2 separate regions of the Homo sapiens genome follow, and region 1 is linked to region 2. Evidence: fine-mapped expression QTL. Tissue or cell type: prefrontal cortex. Region 2 holds a variant in brackets; the other region holds the start of a gene. All regions are shown on one strand. Distances are from middle to middle.

Evidence for each region. PIP is the estimated chance that this variant, and not a neighbour inherited with it, causes the effect.
Region 1: FREM2 starts here. The variant in region 2 is fine-mapped to the expression of FREM2 in prefrontal cortex (CommonMind, PIP 0.95).

The regions. Positions count from the first base shown.
Region 1 is chr13:38,682,880-38,690,987 of GRCh38, reverse strand. FREM2 (FRAS1 related extracellular matrix 2) reads right to left here and starts at 3,911. Exons shown (of 24, transcript NM_207361.6): 1 at 1-3,911. The coding sequence starts at 3,643. LINC00437 (long intergenic non-protein coding RNA 437) reads left to right here and starts at 4,313. Exons shown (of 3, transcript NR_126377.1): 1 at 4,313-4,549; 2 at 7,201-7,301.
Region 2 is chr13:38,760,675-38,768,782 of GRCh38, reverse strand. FREM2 (FRAS1 related extracellular matrix 2) reads right to left here. Exons shown (of 24, transcript NM_207361.6): 3 at 4,333-4,479. Among named protein-coding and RNA genes, the nearest start is that of FREM2-AS1, 63 kb to the left of the region's middle. The variant T/C (reference allele first, on the strand shown) is at 4,858.

The DNA.
Region 1 (8,108 bases), 78 kb after region 2:
CATTGAGAATGGGTGTATCAATTACCAGACTCATGCCTTCCATCACCATAAATTCTCTCATAAACATCTCTGGCTGTTCATCATTGGTGGGAATGATTACAATGGGGAAGAACTGTCTCTCTGAAAAGTTAATGCCATCAGAACAACGAAATACAAATCGGTCCTCCACAGGTTCCACCCCTTTATGGACACTCTGGACATAGTTTATGTGGCCCTGCCTGAGATCTTTCAAGTTGAAAGCACTTATGGCAATCCCTGCTCTTGATTTCTCAGAGCCTGGTGCTGGAGAAATGTTTTCAACATAACCTGAAGTAGGCTGAATAACTATAGTGCACAAGATGTCATCATTCAGGGAGTCGACATCTTCAGCACTTATATGCACTGATGTTATAACACTTTTATCACCTTCCATTACTATCAACTGTTCACCTACAAAGATTTCTGGGGCCTGGCTATCAACAGGCAGGATGGTCACCCATATAGTAACTCCTTGGATAGTATTGCCACCAATTCTCCATTCTTGAGACATATCTGACAGACTCAGGTTAAAAGAATCCGCTTTAGGCAATAGGCCTATCTCACCACTGGTGTGGGTATATACAACAGAGCCCTCCAAGATGTCCCTTTGAGTAAACTGCTCTGCTGGAATGCCATTGACCAAGATTTCCCCATACAAAGGTGGATCTTCCAAGAGGAAAGTCAACATCAAGTCATCAGTTTCCTCATTGGTCCCCTTAATAACATTGGCAGTGATTTCAGTAGCCCCATTTTCTAAGACATCTAGATAGGACTCCAGAGTGCCAGTAGGATGGCTCAGTATGGGCACTTCATCATCCACTGGCCGGACATTTACTCTGAGAGTGATGGGCACCACATGATGTCTGTCACTGACTTCCAAGGAGCAGCTATCAGTCAGGGACTTGTCCCCATTATGGGCATAGGAAACTCGGCCCTGTTTTATGTCCTCCAAGTGGAAGAGACCCCCTACATGCAGGATCTGTCCAGACACTCTCATGTGGCCATGTTTGGGTGCCTGAGTGAGAGTGAAAGAGATATGGGCAACATCAGTGTCTACATCATTCACGTGCAACTCTGTCTCACTCAGGATGTGGTGACCCTTCTCCTGAATAGTGAAGCCGGTGTTGAGGATCTCAGGTGGCTGGTTGTCCACGGGATGCAAGTAAAGGGTAAAGGTACCTGGAGCCACATTCCCAGCTCGGTCTTCCACCTGGAACTGGAACTGGGCCACTCGAGTAGCCACGCCCAGTTCTTGACCCGGGGGTCTGTAAGCAATTTTATGATGGTTGATCTGGGCTTGGGTAAAATGGGTCACCACGACTGAGGGGTTGTCAGTCAAGACCAAGGTACCCAGTGGGGCTGGCAGGTGATTTTCGTCTGTGTCTGTGGGGGGCTGAGTCACTGTGTAACGTAGTTCTCGGTCATCTGTGTCCAGGTCAGTGTAGCGCAGCCACTTCTTCCTCAGTGGTGTGAGCTGGGATTCCTGTACCACCATACGAAGGGGACAGCCACTGCCCAGCTCCGGAGGGAGGCGATCCACAGGATGGATACGAATCACAAACCGCTGTAGCCCGGACTGATTAGGAGGGTCATGGTTATCCTGGACTCTAAATGTGAACTGGTCTGTGACTGGCCCAGGACTATGGGGCCCAGAGTGTCTATAGAACAGCCTGCCCTCTGTTATGTCCTGCTGCTGCCACTCTGTCACTGTTCGCTCATAAAATGCCCCCTCCTTCCTCCAAAGGCCTCTGAGAAGTTCCTGCTTCTCATGGGGAGGGTGAGTTTGGCGGAGAAGCAGATGCCCCGTAGTTAAGAAGGGTGACTCCAGCACAAAAAGCAGCAGAGAATCATCTGAATCCATGTCAGTTGCACTCAGGGAAAGGGGCAGGATGGGCACTGTTTCACCCTCTGCCAGTGTCAGCCCCGTGTTGGCATTGAGAACAGGTGGCTGGTCATCCACAGGCACTAAGGTGATGGGGAACAGAAACTGTACCTGGTGCCTGCCTCCTCCATCCACCATGCGAAGCACCAGGTTGTCGCTCAGCGAGCCGTCTCTGTCATCATGCTGGTAGACCACCTGGCCGGCTGCCAGCTCAGCCACTGTAAAGCTCTTGGGAGCAGAGCTGCCACTGGAAGCACCCAGAATGACAAGGTGACCATGCCGGAGCCCAGCCACCACCTCTAGCCGCACTGCTTCTAGGTCATCCTCATCGCTGATGACCAAGTTTTGCGGACCACTGCCTGCAGGGCCTGTGAGGGGCCGAGACTGACCCTCATAGAGAATAAGACCGGTATTCCGGGTGACCACCGGAGCCATTGTGTTCATGGGCTTCACCACTACCATGAAGGCAAAAGGGTCTGAAGCTGCTCCTTCTAGATCCACTACCTCCAATTCCAGTTCAAAGAGGCGCTCCTGGTCAGAGTCTTCAGAAGGGGGCTGGTAGGCAATCTTCAGGAGCCGCAGATCCCTCTGAGTGAAGGAGGAAAGGGGCAGGCTGCGATCATCGGTGCTCACCAAGTAGCCCTGGCCAGGCTGGAATGGAGAAGTAAGGTTGAAGATCAACAGGTCAGAGGGAGACTCAGCATCCTCGGCTGCCAGCATGTCTGGGGTCAGGGCCGTCAGTACAAACTGGTCCACCTCCATCATCATCATGGCCACGAAACTGGGCTTGGGTGCAGTGTTCTCGGCCCCTCCTCGGATCCTCACCAGAACCTGGAAGTGCTCGCGTTTCAAAGCAGGGCTGCCCACAGGAGCCCCTCGTGAACGCAGCTCCACCACCATGGGTATCCAGTCCCTGTTTGGTGAGCGACTGGCGGCTGTGTGGCGATAGCGCACGCCTAGTTCCTGGAAAGCTTTGCAGTCCATCAGGAGAGTCTCCGGGGCGCCTCCCTCTCTGGCTCCTCCAGGGACCTGCGGGTAGTGGAGGAGTTCTCCATAGCGAGGCAGCGCGCCCAAGCCGGACAGGATGCCCACGCGGCACTCCTCTGTCTCGGGCTGGAAGGCGAACTCCAGGCTCCGCGCGTCCAGGGCATTGCTGGTCCCCAGCAGCTCTTCCACGACCAGAGGCAAGTTCCGAGTCACAACCTCCAGCTGGGTGAAGACCACCTCCACCTCCAGTACCAGTGGTAGCACTACTGCCCCTCCGGGCGCGTCATAGCGCAGCTGCAGCCGGACGCGGTCCCGAGACGGGCTGCGCGCGCCCAGGTGAGAGTAGCGCACCTCGCCAGGGCCAAAGTCGCACGGGAAGCGCTTGGGACTCAGGCGGCCCGGTCGCTGGGCCAGTGCGTCGTTGTCTAGTACCGAAACCGCGCAGCGGTCCCCGGGCTGCACCTGCAACACCAGGTCATGCAGGGGATCCAGCCAGACTTCACGGCCGAAAGGCACCCGGAGTCCGCGGTTCGCCAGCACTATGGCCTCCTCAGCAGGGACCCCTGCAGCCCCCGCGAGACCAGGGGACAGCAACGCCCTGCCGAAGGCAGCGGGCTGTGCCGGGACGCGGCTTACCAGTGACAGGAGAAGCAGCAGCAGCAGCAGCAGCCGGGGCGGCGGTGGCGGTCCTGGTTGAAAGCTGGTGGAGTTGCCTGTCCGGCGCGAGGATAACCCGGGAGTCCCGGCTGAGTGCATGGTCCCGGTGTTCGGGCTTGGACAGGTCAGCCTGAGAGCATGCGAAGTCGGTCCCCGGGCAGACAACAAGAGACACCGCCGGGAAGTGCCAGGAACTCCGCGCGTTGCCCGCGGGGTCCTCCTGTAGCCGGGGCTGGGCCAGAAGGATGGCAAAGTTGCGCGGCGCCGTCCGGGCTGGAGCCGCAGCCGAGGAGCCGAAGCCTTCCCAGGCCGTCCAGCTCCGCCGCTAGCGCCTCAATCGCGCGGAGAATTGAATCCCTCCACTTCTACTTTCCAGGTCCCCGGACCCTGGGCTTTGAGGGAAATCCCTCCGCTCGCACCCCTTACTCCAGTCCTCCCAGGTGGCCAATCGTTGGTCGGGGGAGGAGGTGCGGAGCTGAGGGTTGGGTAGTAATTTCTGCCAATCAGCTCTTAGAGGCCAAGGCGGGGAAACTGCGGGGAGGGGAGGAGATAGAGGCGCAACAGGTTGTCCTGGAAGTGAGGGAAGAAGTGGCCAGGAGTTGCCCACCCCTGCTTGCGCTACTCTCTGGGCTGCTATTAATAGATCTGGTACTCCTGCAGAGGAGCCGGAACACACTGCTGTGCTGGGTTCACTTCATCTGCCGGCGACCGAGGGTTACCCATTTTAGCCACCCCCACCCCTCCGCCCTAGTCAATGAAATCCCGCGCAGGGCATGGCCATTTCCCAAGGAAACTTGCAAACCCAGGGGAAAGTTAGACGCAATGCTTTTTGAGTTTGAAGCGAAACCCAGAGCGTTTGAGAAGAAATTCTGGGGCATATTTGCAAAAGGACAGCTGGAATTAAAAGCCATAGCTAGAGCAGGTTGCACTCCAGCCCAGCCCCCTTCGGCGCGCCCAGACGCTGCCTTCTCCTCGTGAATTACAATGGGCACAGTCCTCCGATTGGTGAGTTTTTAACAAGCCCCTCCTTTGCAACCGAGGTTCACAGAGTAAAAGGGAAAAAGGGCATTTGGAATGCGTGAGAAATGCAGTCTGATCAGAATTGCTAGTCTTGCACCAAAGAATAAATTCTAGGGAATGTGGCCCCAGGCGCTCCCAAATCCGACTCTGTTAGGGTAGCTGTCATTAGAGACGTTCCTGTTCTCTTCGCAGTAATTAGACCAAGCACAAACTAAATCTACTTGTCAGCATCACATTTCTTTGCATGCCACGAAAATTGATAAATATCCGGAGGGCACACTAAAATAGTTTAGCTCTCATTTCAGCCAACAGGTTTTGAAGTCAGAGCTTGAGCTCTTCCTGCCCCCTTGTGTTTGTTTGGTTTTAGTAGTGTGTAGATTCCCTTTCTAAAAGGTTTTTTTATCAACTCTCCTCCCCCCCTCAAAAAAGATCCCTTGTAATTTAAACTTAATCATTTTCGGATTGGCTCCTAAGCAATCATAGTCAGAATGTTTTATTTAGGATAATATTTTTTTTCTCCAGTAATGCAAATCTGATTGCTAACAGGAGCATAGAATTGGAGTAATAGTCATAATTAGCCATAATTGCCCTTTTCCTGCTCCAAGGGATTTTGAATTTGGAAAAGAGGGAAATATAAGAAATTGTTAATGTCTTTTTACATTTCAGTCTAAATTGAAGCTAGAAGGTGCCTATGGGAGTAATTTCAGTAAGAAGTGCCTATCCTTTTAAGCCTTTGTGTTTTCAGCTTGAGCTCCTCCAGACCAGGATTTTGATCCTTGCTTGACACAGTTACAGCTATTTTCCAGGCTGCAGCACAAACTCTGTACATAAGTATGGCTGGGAGATGCCAGATTCCTTTCCATGAAACCTACTGAGTGGTGTCCGTTTCCAGGAATCATAGACAGGAAGTTCTAAAATCTTTCAAAAAGAAGCAAGAGATCAATTTAAAGGAGTCACTCATCCAAGCAAGTGTGCAAGCACGCAAACAAGTAACATTTAGTTAATTAAATATTAATTAAGATTATTCTGTGTGCTGTGCATTGTTTGAGGAGCTTTTAACTACAACTTAGAAACTGATGGATACATTTCACAATTTATTACAAAATGGGCATCCAGGAGCATAGAAGGGATGTGGCCCTTACTTTAAATACATTAGAAAATCCCCCATCTAACTCTTTACCAATTTCCTATTTGCTTTGTCATTATTATTTTATAATTTATATGATTATTTATTATCGCATACAGAATTCAAAATGCGGAACATGGGGGGAAATTCTGCTATTTCCTGTTCCAAATTAAAACAAATAAGATGCCAAGTAAACTAGAAAACCAATTTCAGAATATGGCTCTTTTTATAGTAAATTTCAAATTCTGGTTGTGTGTTTGTATTGAAAAATGTCATCTGGAAGCAAAGTGGCCTTATCCAGGCATTGTGACCCTGGGTAAATTCTGAGCAGAACCAGACTAACAGCTTGACCCTTGATGCTTCTTAGTGGCTCCAGGGTTTTCCTTTCCTCCTTTTAAAGTCCAACTCTGTTTGACTTGCAAGCAATGATAAGATCAGCATTTGAAGTATGGTAGTATGCCTCAAGGGCAGAGTTCAATATTTTGTTTCATGGTAAGAAAAATACAGGACCACATTTATTTTTACATAGCCTAAGGAAATCAATAAACTATAATCTTTTTGACTTTTTAATTTTGTCTGCCTTGATCGAAGTGATAGAATGATTTTTAGAGATTATTATTATTTTTTGGTAAATGTCTTAGTTATTTGTCTTGTAAATCAAATAGAAGGTAACTCAAACTATCATTTGGCTAAATATATTTTACATTGATGATCATTGACAAAACAATGAGATGTCAAATTTTTATTTGAGAGCAAATATTATTGATGAAGATCATCTCTGTTTAGGCTCCTAGTTCAGTGTTAAAAGATATGAATGCTAAAATAGCAAGAAAATTATTATTTTACAGTCAGCGTTCTCAATATCACTCAATTTCATGAAGAATAAGTTAGCAAATGTGATTTTTTTTTTTTTTTTTTTTTTACAAAATTCGAGCTTAACACTTCACTTCTTACTTCCTTAAGCCTTATAACGCTTCCTATACATACCATGGGCAAAATATTCCTTAAAATACATTCTTAAATTTGTTTGCTACTTTAAAGTCATACCAAAGTGTTGTCTCATATCAACTTAGAGTTAAAATTATTGATTGCTAAAACTCACAGACTAAGATTAAGCACTAGAGAACTTGTTTTCTAAAATAAAGGAAGCAATGTAATTAATTTATGATTCAGGCAAGGTATTTAGGTGGAAATACCTAATACCTAATACCTAGTACCTAGTAGGTCTACCTAACTATTACCTAACTACTACCTATTAGTAGGAAATACCTAATACCTAGTAGGTCTAGGACTGGAGGTCAGACTGGAACTAAAAATACATCTAGTTAAATTTTGAGAATTATAGTTTTCATTATATAGTTTATTTCATTTTCCTTATGCTTCTCCACCGGGTCATAAGATTCCAATAGAGAAGATTGCCTTATAGACACTTTTAAAATACTTACAGATGAATTATTGAAGTTTCTTGTGAAACATCTTTATTCATTCTCAACAAATGCTTATTCTTCAGTGGCATCAAAACCATGGTTTGACCATAAACACAAAACTTCATCGATTTCAGAGCAGCACTGAGGGGTGAGGACAAACAGCTACGGACTCATTAACCAAGAGGTGGGTTCCAGTAGCGGTTTTGACATCCACTAAATTATGACTTACAGCAATCCTCTTTATGTTTTGCAACTATAGTCTTCTCAACTGTAAAACAAGAGAGTCAGTCTTTGTGGACAAATTCCCTTTTGGTTTTAATAAGCTTGTGGCATAAGACCAAATTTATGGACGACCTGCTATTTTGCTTCCTCATGTCCCTTGGCCATTGGCTATAGGTCTCATTCTTGCCAGAAACACTACTAATCAAAAATGTATCACTGCTACTAGGTCAGAAAATGTAGAACTCAAATTCATGCCCCTTGCGAACGGCTCAATTGTTTCTGCCTAAAATATACAGAACAACATTTGTATTAATTGACGTGGACAGCTTAAATACAACATCTCTAAGTAACTATTTTTAAATAAAAAATAAAATTGAAATAAAAGTCTAGAAATGCAAAACTTAATTAAACTCATCATAAGGATAGGCGAATTTTCAAGATGGATTTATTATTGAGTAACATATGGCTTCACAAGCGCCCAGACTTTCCAGACAAAGCTATGTTCAGATGGGAGTCTATGTGGGGAAGAAGAAAGAGCACTGGACTAGAAGCCAGAAAACCTGTTTTGAAACTGGCCTTTCCATTTGCTTGCTGTAAAATATACAGAACAACATTTGTATTAATTGACGTGGACAGCTTAAATACAACATCTCTAAGTAACTATTTTTAAATAAAAAATAAAATTGAAATAAAAGTCTAGAAATGCAAAACTTAATTAAACTCATCATAAGGATAGGCGAATTTTCAAGATGGATTTATTATTGAGTAA
Region 2 (8,108 bases):
CATTATCCAAAAGCAGTGAAAACATTCAATGTCATAGAAAAATTATAAAACGGCAATGGTACTTGGACTTCTATATCCTTAAATACAGAACCAGAACCTCTTAATGAGTCAAGTTAATAGAATAATTTTCAAATATATTTCTCTAAACCTGAGCATTTTCAGAGAAGTGGGTAAGACAGACAGATGTAAAAGAGTTGGAAAAATAAGGCTGGGCATGGTGGCTCAGGTTTATCATCCCAGCAGTTTGGAAGGGCGAGGTGGGTGGATCACTTGAGCCCAGGAGTTCCAGACCATCCTGGGAAACATGGTGAAACCCCATCTCTACAAAAAAGACAAAAATTAGCTGGGTGTGGTGGCGCATGCCTGTAGTCCTTGCTACTGGGGAGGCTGAGGTGGATCACCTGAGCCCTAGGAGGTCAAGACTGTAGTGAGTTGTGATTATGCCACTGTGCTCCAGCCTGGGTGAGTGAGAGCCTGCCTCAAAAATTAAAAATACATAAATGCATAAATAAATAAATAAAAGAGGGAAAAATAAAGTCTTGTGATAGATTTTTTAAATCTTGAAAATAAGTTATTTGGAAGATTTTGCATTTAGTTAAAAATTATACTTTTGAAAAATTCCTTTTGTTCTTCAAACTAGAAATGAAACTGAACTAAATAAGATCCATTCAACCACAAATATTCATTGAGTACTTATTCCATGCCAGGCTCTATTCCATGTGCTGGGGCTGTATCAGAGAACAAAACAGACAAAAACTCTTGCCTTCGTAGTGCTTATATAAGAGTCATTTGAATATGTATTTATATATAGGAATATATCAATGACTGTTATTTTAATCTTAAAGTGAAGATGAAAAAGATTTTATTAAAAATATTTCTGTCTTACAGATCTCAGAACAATAACTAACATAAATATTGCATCATATTTTTCTTTTACAGTAGCAGGTAAAACATGATTCATTTAATGGCAAGAGAAAAAAGGGCACAGAACCAGGAATTGCAGGGCTGCATATCTTGTTGAATGCTGTAGACTTCCTGACAGCTCTCTGGTTCCTTGTGCACACAGAGTTGGTTGTCAGCACCTCTTGGATCCACTACAATTCACTGCCAAGATGCTGATGAAAGGAATCATTCTCTCTGAGGTTCCAGAACACATGCTGCTCACTGACCCATCTATCCCCAGTGGCATCACCAGCAAAATCTGTTAGTTTGCCTCTGATAGCTACTGCTCACTTTTCTGTTTTGTTTTCTTTCATCAGCAATGCATTATTTGTTTTTTTTGGAGTTTCAAAAGGGAGTTAAAAATAAAAATTGAGTAAGTGTGATACAATGAATGTCTGCTAGTTCCAACTAGTCCTCCTTCCTGCACGATAGTCAAGCCATCTAATATTAAATGAGTTGCAATACCATCTGATATTAAATGAGTTGCAATACCATATCCCAATTGTTGCTGCTAAAAACACCTATAATTTTTCACTTTTGTTATTAAATGAAACTGCAATTGGATCTTTTCCTCTGACATAGAAAAATAACAAAGTGGTTAAACAGGGTGTTTGTGGAAGGAGAGAATAGATTTTATATCCCATCCAGGCCATATAACAGTTGTGGGATCGTAGGCAAGTTATTAACTTATCTCAGTGGAGGATTTATGAAGCACTATGGTGCAGTGATTAAGAGCATGGGCCTTTTGCCCAATCTCAGCTCTGCCCCTTACTAGCTGGCTAACTTTAAACATGTCACAGCCTCTCTATTTCCTCACCTCATGGTACTCTTCTCATGGAGTTGACCTAGGTAGGGTATTGGGAAGTAGGCCCAGCAAATAACTCAATAAACATTAGCTATCATTGTTTCTTCATAGTTCACTACCTAACACAGCCCCTGGTATGTAATGAGTACTCAATAAAATATTTGTTGAGTCAGGGAATAAAGGATGGATGTAAGGTATAAAAGAGATAGATAAAGTGCTTAATGTACGTATGAAGTACCTTGCCTTTAATAAATATTCAATAACTGGTAGCAATAAGAGCTTTGAAATGCATATACTAATGTGGAATATAAATACATATCTAGTTTATTAGTTTTAGTGGTTATAAAATGAATAATAATCTTTGAGAATATACATCTACAAATTTCAGTAATTCATGGTTTCTTAGCTGTACTCAAGCGATACTCTGTCTTTTGCTATAATGCAATCTATCTCATTCTAAAAGTCCATAAATAAAAGCAGAGGTTGTATGGGCACAGTTATAAGCAACGTATTCATTGTAAAACTTGTATGAGGCTACCCTTCATTTTAATCTGGTTTCCATTCCAGGTCCTAGCATGAATTCCGTTACCATCTTCAATGACTGAAGGATGTGGGCCACACACAGAAGGCTTCCCAATTTTCTATCACCCCAGGTTACTAAGTAACCATGTGAAGTGAACCAAGTAAAGCCTATGAGCCTTTGTAGAACTGCCGTTAACCCCACATTCGTAGAAAATAATAGTGCATTGAAAAAAATAACAACAAAAAGAGCTCTTGTTTGACATTTTGGCATCCAGCTTAAGAAAAAAGAGGCAGTGGAGAAAAAAAAAGGCAAAAAAATAATTTTACAATCTTTTTCTACTGTTAACTTTCCCAATGTTATCCAGGGGCCTGTTGTGAGTGAAAAATTAAATAAACTCACCAGGAGTGGGAACTCAGGTAAAAAATAGATAAACCTATTTTTAATAATCGGTAAGGTGCTCTGTTTTTTAGTTATCATTTTCCCCATGATTTATTTGCTATATGTTCAAGTACAAAGCAGAGTTAAGACGAATCACTCCCTGATGATAAGACAGGATGTGCACATGTGCACAGAGAATATGTCCCTAAAAGAGAGCGCAGTGAGAGTGCTCAGAATATCCTAGGCTAAATACAAAGCATGAGAAGCACAGCCAGGTGGAGGCTCATGCAAAATGAAGATGGAAGCAGAGGCTGGGGGTGAGGCCGCGGGGAGACCAGCCCCCCTGCAACCAGAGCAACCTCAAAGACAGGGAAAGTGTCGTGTGAAAACCTGGTCTTCTAAAGTTAAAAGGAAAAAAAAAGAATTTTAAAAGTAAGGGGTAATTAATATTCAGAATCAAAACATGTCAGGGGAAATCAAAAAGAGTGGTGGGGTTCTGGCTGCAGCAAAATTACAGCGGGATGTGTGGGGGTGTCAGGGAGGGATGTTGGGGGTGGCAGGGGTGTGTATTTCTGTGCATAGAGGTCTACTCTTTGAGGATCTGGAAGTTCATGGACCCAGTAAAATTTCAAAATAATCATTTGGAGACAAGCATAGGTTTACTAACTTTTTACTTTGCCAACATTTTCCCAGATTGCCACCTTAGTTGATAATCTCACTCAATGAAATCTCTTTTTATCCCATGCAAATTCCATTGGTCTAGATGTCTATAAAATATATGGTACCAAAAACAATATAGTTGCTTCAGGTGCTGCCATTTTTATCAACATATTAAATATTTTGTGCCAACCATATTGCTGCTTAAAAGTACCAATATACTGCCAACTTTATTTTATGCTTCTATGAAAATCAAATATGAACTTGAGGCCGGGCGCGGTGGCTCACGCCTGTAATCCCAGCACTTTGGGAGGCCGAGGTGGGCAGATTACGAGGTCAGGAGATCGAGACTATCCTGGCTAACACGGTGAAACCCCGTCTCTACTAAAAATACAAAAAATTAGCTGGGTATGGTGGTGGGCACCTGTAGTCCCAGCTACTTGAGAGGCTGAGGCAGGAGAATGGCGTGAACCTGGGAGGCGGAGCTTGCAGTGAGCTGAGATCACGCCACTGCACTCCAACCTGGGCAACAGAGCGAGCCTCCGTCTCAAACAAAACAAAACAAATATGAACTTGAATTGGAGTTGAAAAAAGGTTTCATTCGTTTGCTTCTGACTCTTAGTTTTATTTAAACGAAGTAAAGCAGAAGAAAATCATTAGTATTTAACAATTTACTGTTGTTACAAAGAAAGGTCACGATACTCATGTTTCAGAAAACTTTTATCTTACGGGTAAATTACAGATTTGCCTAAGCTCATTCTAAGATCTAGTGACATTTATTTTTGTTTCGTAACTTATTAGTGTTCCTGCCAATTTTTATACCAGAAAAAGATCATATGTACACAGAAGGCTTGAAGAGATAAGTACCTTGACACAAACCTGTTGCTTGTTTCTTTAGCAGTTAGAGAACTTTTAAATTTTAACTTTAAGCTCTAAGTGAACTAAACTGATACTTTAATCACTGTAGAATTATAAACCTTTGCTAGAAAAATAAAATTTTAAAACAGAAATAAAAAATTAAACTTACTTATAAAAGAAGTTTCTCCCAAGTAACCTCTACGTTTAAGAACAACATCTAGAAATTTGGAGTCCTCATTGACCAGGTAATATTCCTTTTCAAAGGAGATCCATGCCCAATTCAGACGAAAATTCTGGTACGTTAACTTGTTTCCACCTTGAAAATAAAAATTTAAAGCCATAAATTAGTGCTTTCTTGAATGAGTGATCTTCAAAATTCCACAGATTACTTTAATGAAACAACATTAACAATCAATACAGCTACTTAGTTTGATACACAACTCTGGAATATGTACATGGAGATACAGCTTACAGTCTAGAGACTGTTACACATACATTCAATCGCTGACATAATTCTTCACAAATTCCTTGCTGTTTTAGGAGGGGAAGTAGGTAATGGGTAGGAAGTGCACAACTACCAGAGGCTATTTAGTTTAATCCTAAAACTAAATATCCAACTTGCAGGATAACTCACTTCCCACAAGGTGCCACTGGAGAGCAAGTTTTCTAATCAGAGGGCTGCAAGGCTCCTTTG[T/C]GATGTTCTAAAAAACACACACACAACTTCACAAATACTTTTTCCGGTTCACAGAGCAATTGGGTGGAAGGTTTTAATTATAACCACTTAAGGAAAAACAAATATCCCTTCTCCGCCTCCCTTCCCCACTATATTCCACTCCATTCCTTAGAGCAAACAGACAGTTCTTTTCATTGATTTCCATTCCACTCTGAAGATAAGGTTTTCCCCTTCCATCTTCCCACCAAAATGGAGTGGGCTGCCTATCAGCAGAAAATAAACCTTGTGTGTGATCTCTCTAATGTGAAAGCGACTATGTTGGGTAAATGAAAGGAAAAATGGTTATCAGCTGATCACTCTGCACGCATCCCTCTACTTCCTTTGATCTACACCAATTATTTCAGAGTAAGGTGAGGTTTACAAACAAAGGCATCAGTAATGCCTTTTAAGTCTTTCTGAAAGAGGGTGTAAAAAAAAAAAAAGCCCAAGTAACAAACACAGCTAGAGGCACAGTTTTCATTCTAGTTTCTTCTCTTTGCAGTTCACATAGAAAAAGAAATGAAAGAGGAAAATCTCAAAACTTTAATAGACGACAAAAAAAAAATCTACACAAGGGAAAACGCTGAGTGAGCGAAGACATGAAAATACATTCATCTTTGCTCGAACTTTTAAAAAATAAAAACTGCAGCAACTTTGAGCTATCAACTTAACAGGTACTAAAGATTAAAGAGAATACCTTGTACAACTGAGATTATGTAGGGAAATTGTTTTCTTGTTTACTGTTGTTTGGCTTTCAAATTAGCACAAGCCTTTTGGACAGCTATGTGCCAATGTGTGCAAGGGGCAAAAAGATGGTTATATCCTTCAATCTTGTCGCTCCTTCTGTGGGATTTTTGCTTTAAGAGAAGCAGAAATATATTTGTAAGGAACTATTCATTGCAATATTTTCTATAATAACCCCAAACCTTAAAAACTATCTTATAGTGTATCAAATCAATAAAATGTTATTCAACTCCCAAACAATAAATATGAAATTGTTGTTGGAACACCGAAAACACTTAAAAACACAACAACAAATGGTACTGATACTGTGAATGTAGCTTCGTAAAATGAGACATGATACAGGAGAAGCTGCTTGGTGTTTTAAATGATGGGATTATGGACTTTCCTATTTTTAGTTAATTTATCAACTATAAAATATAAATAGATTGGGGCCGGGCGTGGTGGCTCATGCCTGTAGTCTCAGCACTTTGGGAGGCTGAGGTGGATCACCTGAGGTCGGGAGTTCAAGCCCAGCCTAACCAACATAGAGAAACCCCGTCTCTACTAAAAATGCAAAACTAGCCAGGCATGGTGGCGCATGCCTGTAATCCCAGCTACTCGGGAGGCTGAGGCAGGAGAATCGCTTGTACCCAGGAAGCAGAGGTTGTGGTGAGCCAAGATCGCACCATTGCACTCCAGCCTGGGCAACAAGAGTGAAACTCTGTCTCAAAAAAAAAAAGATTGGAGAGCAGGAATTTTGTGTCAGTTTGTCCGTTTAACAAGGAAACTCATTCCACATTTTGCGCTGATGAAACTTACTAAACTTACTATGCCCAATGTCTGCTGCACCCTGAGTGCTGTTCTGGAGAGGAGAGGCCATGGGCTAGGAGGCTCCTCAGAACTGGAGTCCAAGGCCCACCCACATCACTTCTAGCTGCTGTCTGACTCTGACCAAGTTACTTCTCTGGATCTCTGTTTCCTTTTCTGGAGAGTCAGGTGAGGGTGACGCTAATTAGCGCCTGTGATTTCTTCAAAGATCGACTCAGGTAACCCATACACACACACAGTGCTCTGAGGTCAATAGTATCATTCAACAAATGCAAGCTCACTCTGCCCTGCCACGCCACGCATGCCCAAGCCCACCCTGCATGCCCACTGCTGGACTACTATTCGTCTGCCTTACACCCACCTGTGCTCCTTTCTCCTTTGCCCCTCTTGCCTACAGCTTTTGCCCATATCAAGTGGACTTTTCTTTGCAGATTTCCAGGTTCATCCTGACCTACCCTGATTGTTCCCCTTGCACTCTAATCTGCCCATTTGGAGGTCAAGCCAAGATTCTTGCAGCTCCTGGGATTTGCCACCCTCACTCTTTCCATCACCCTTGTCCTCTTGCCTAAAATGAGGACCCCTATTCTTCCTTGGCTGACACTTTCCATTCCTTATTGCTGCTCTATCCCCCTCCTGTGTGAAGCAGCTGCAGCTGCTCCAGCCCTTTCATGTCTTTGTGGTTCTGCAGCTGTTCTCTTATTGATTACTCTGTATAGTTGTGCACTTTAGTGGGTATCCTCTCATATTTAATTGTATTAATTTACTAATTGTACTAAATTGTACTAATTTACATCAATAATTGACAGTATCCATTCTTTCATTATTGCCAATACTTGTTCTCATTGTTTTTAAAAAATATTTTAAAAAATTATTGTGTTTACGTTCCATTAATTGGAACATCATCTAGAAAGTAATAGAAAAGATAGAATAACATGCAATTGATTAAATTAGTACATAAAACAGCTCTGATTTCAAAACAAATTATCAGATGAAAACACCTTTATGCCACACTCCTGTCCACTTTAAACTGTGGTCCCAGCAAGCCTAGGTTTCATTCCAAACTTCTTGTCATGCTCTACCAAGCTTTTTCTTGTCCATTCTAACACCTATGACTTCACATCCTATCACTTCCCCTTAAAGAGAAATATCCATCCTCTCACATCCAACCTCTCACTCTTTTCTGAACAAAGGTGGCTGTTTTTGTATGTGCTGTATCTTCTGCCCAGGACATCCTTAGTTTTTCTCCTCTTCCTGGGAATCCCTATTCCTCTAAATTTTAACAATTCTTAGCTAATTTTAAGATTTGATTCTAACCCTTTCCTGAGATATTCCAGAAAATATCATTCTCTTCTAAATATGGCACATTTTAAGAATATTGAGTCACTGAGGGCTTCTCTTTTCAGTTTTTATAAAACAGCAAGCCCAGTGCAAACTCCAGCCCTCTCTACCCCTTTATTCTGGTTAGTTTTTCTCTACGGTACTTTCCAAAATCTTATATCCTATATATATTTACTATTTTTTTTTTGTCATTTTCTGTGTTCTCCCACTGCAACACATGATCCAGGAGTTCTGGGAGCTCATTTAACTTATTGTTAGAAAAACATCTATTGCATCAATTAGAAACTCTAATGTCTTGGCTGAAAGTTTAGTGGTCCTTCATTTATTGAGCAACATAAATTTTC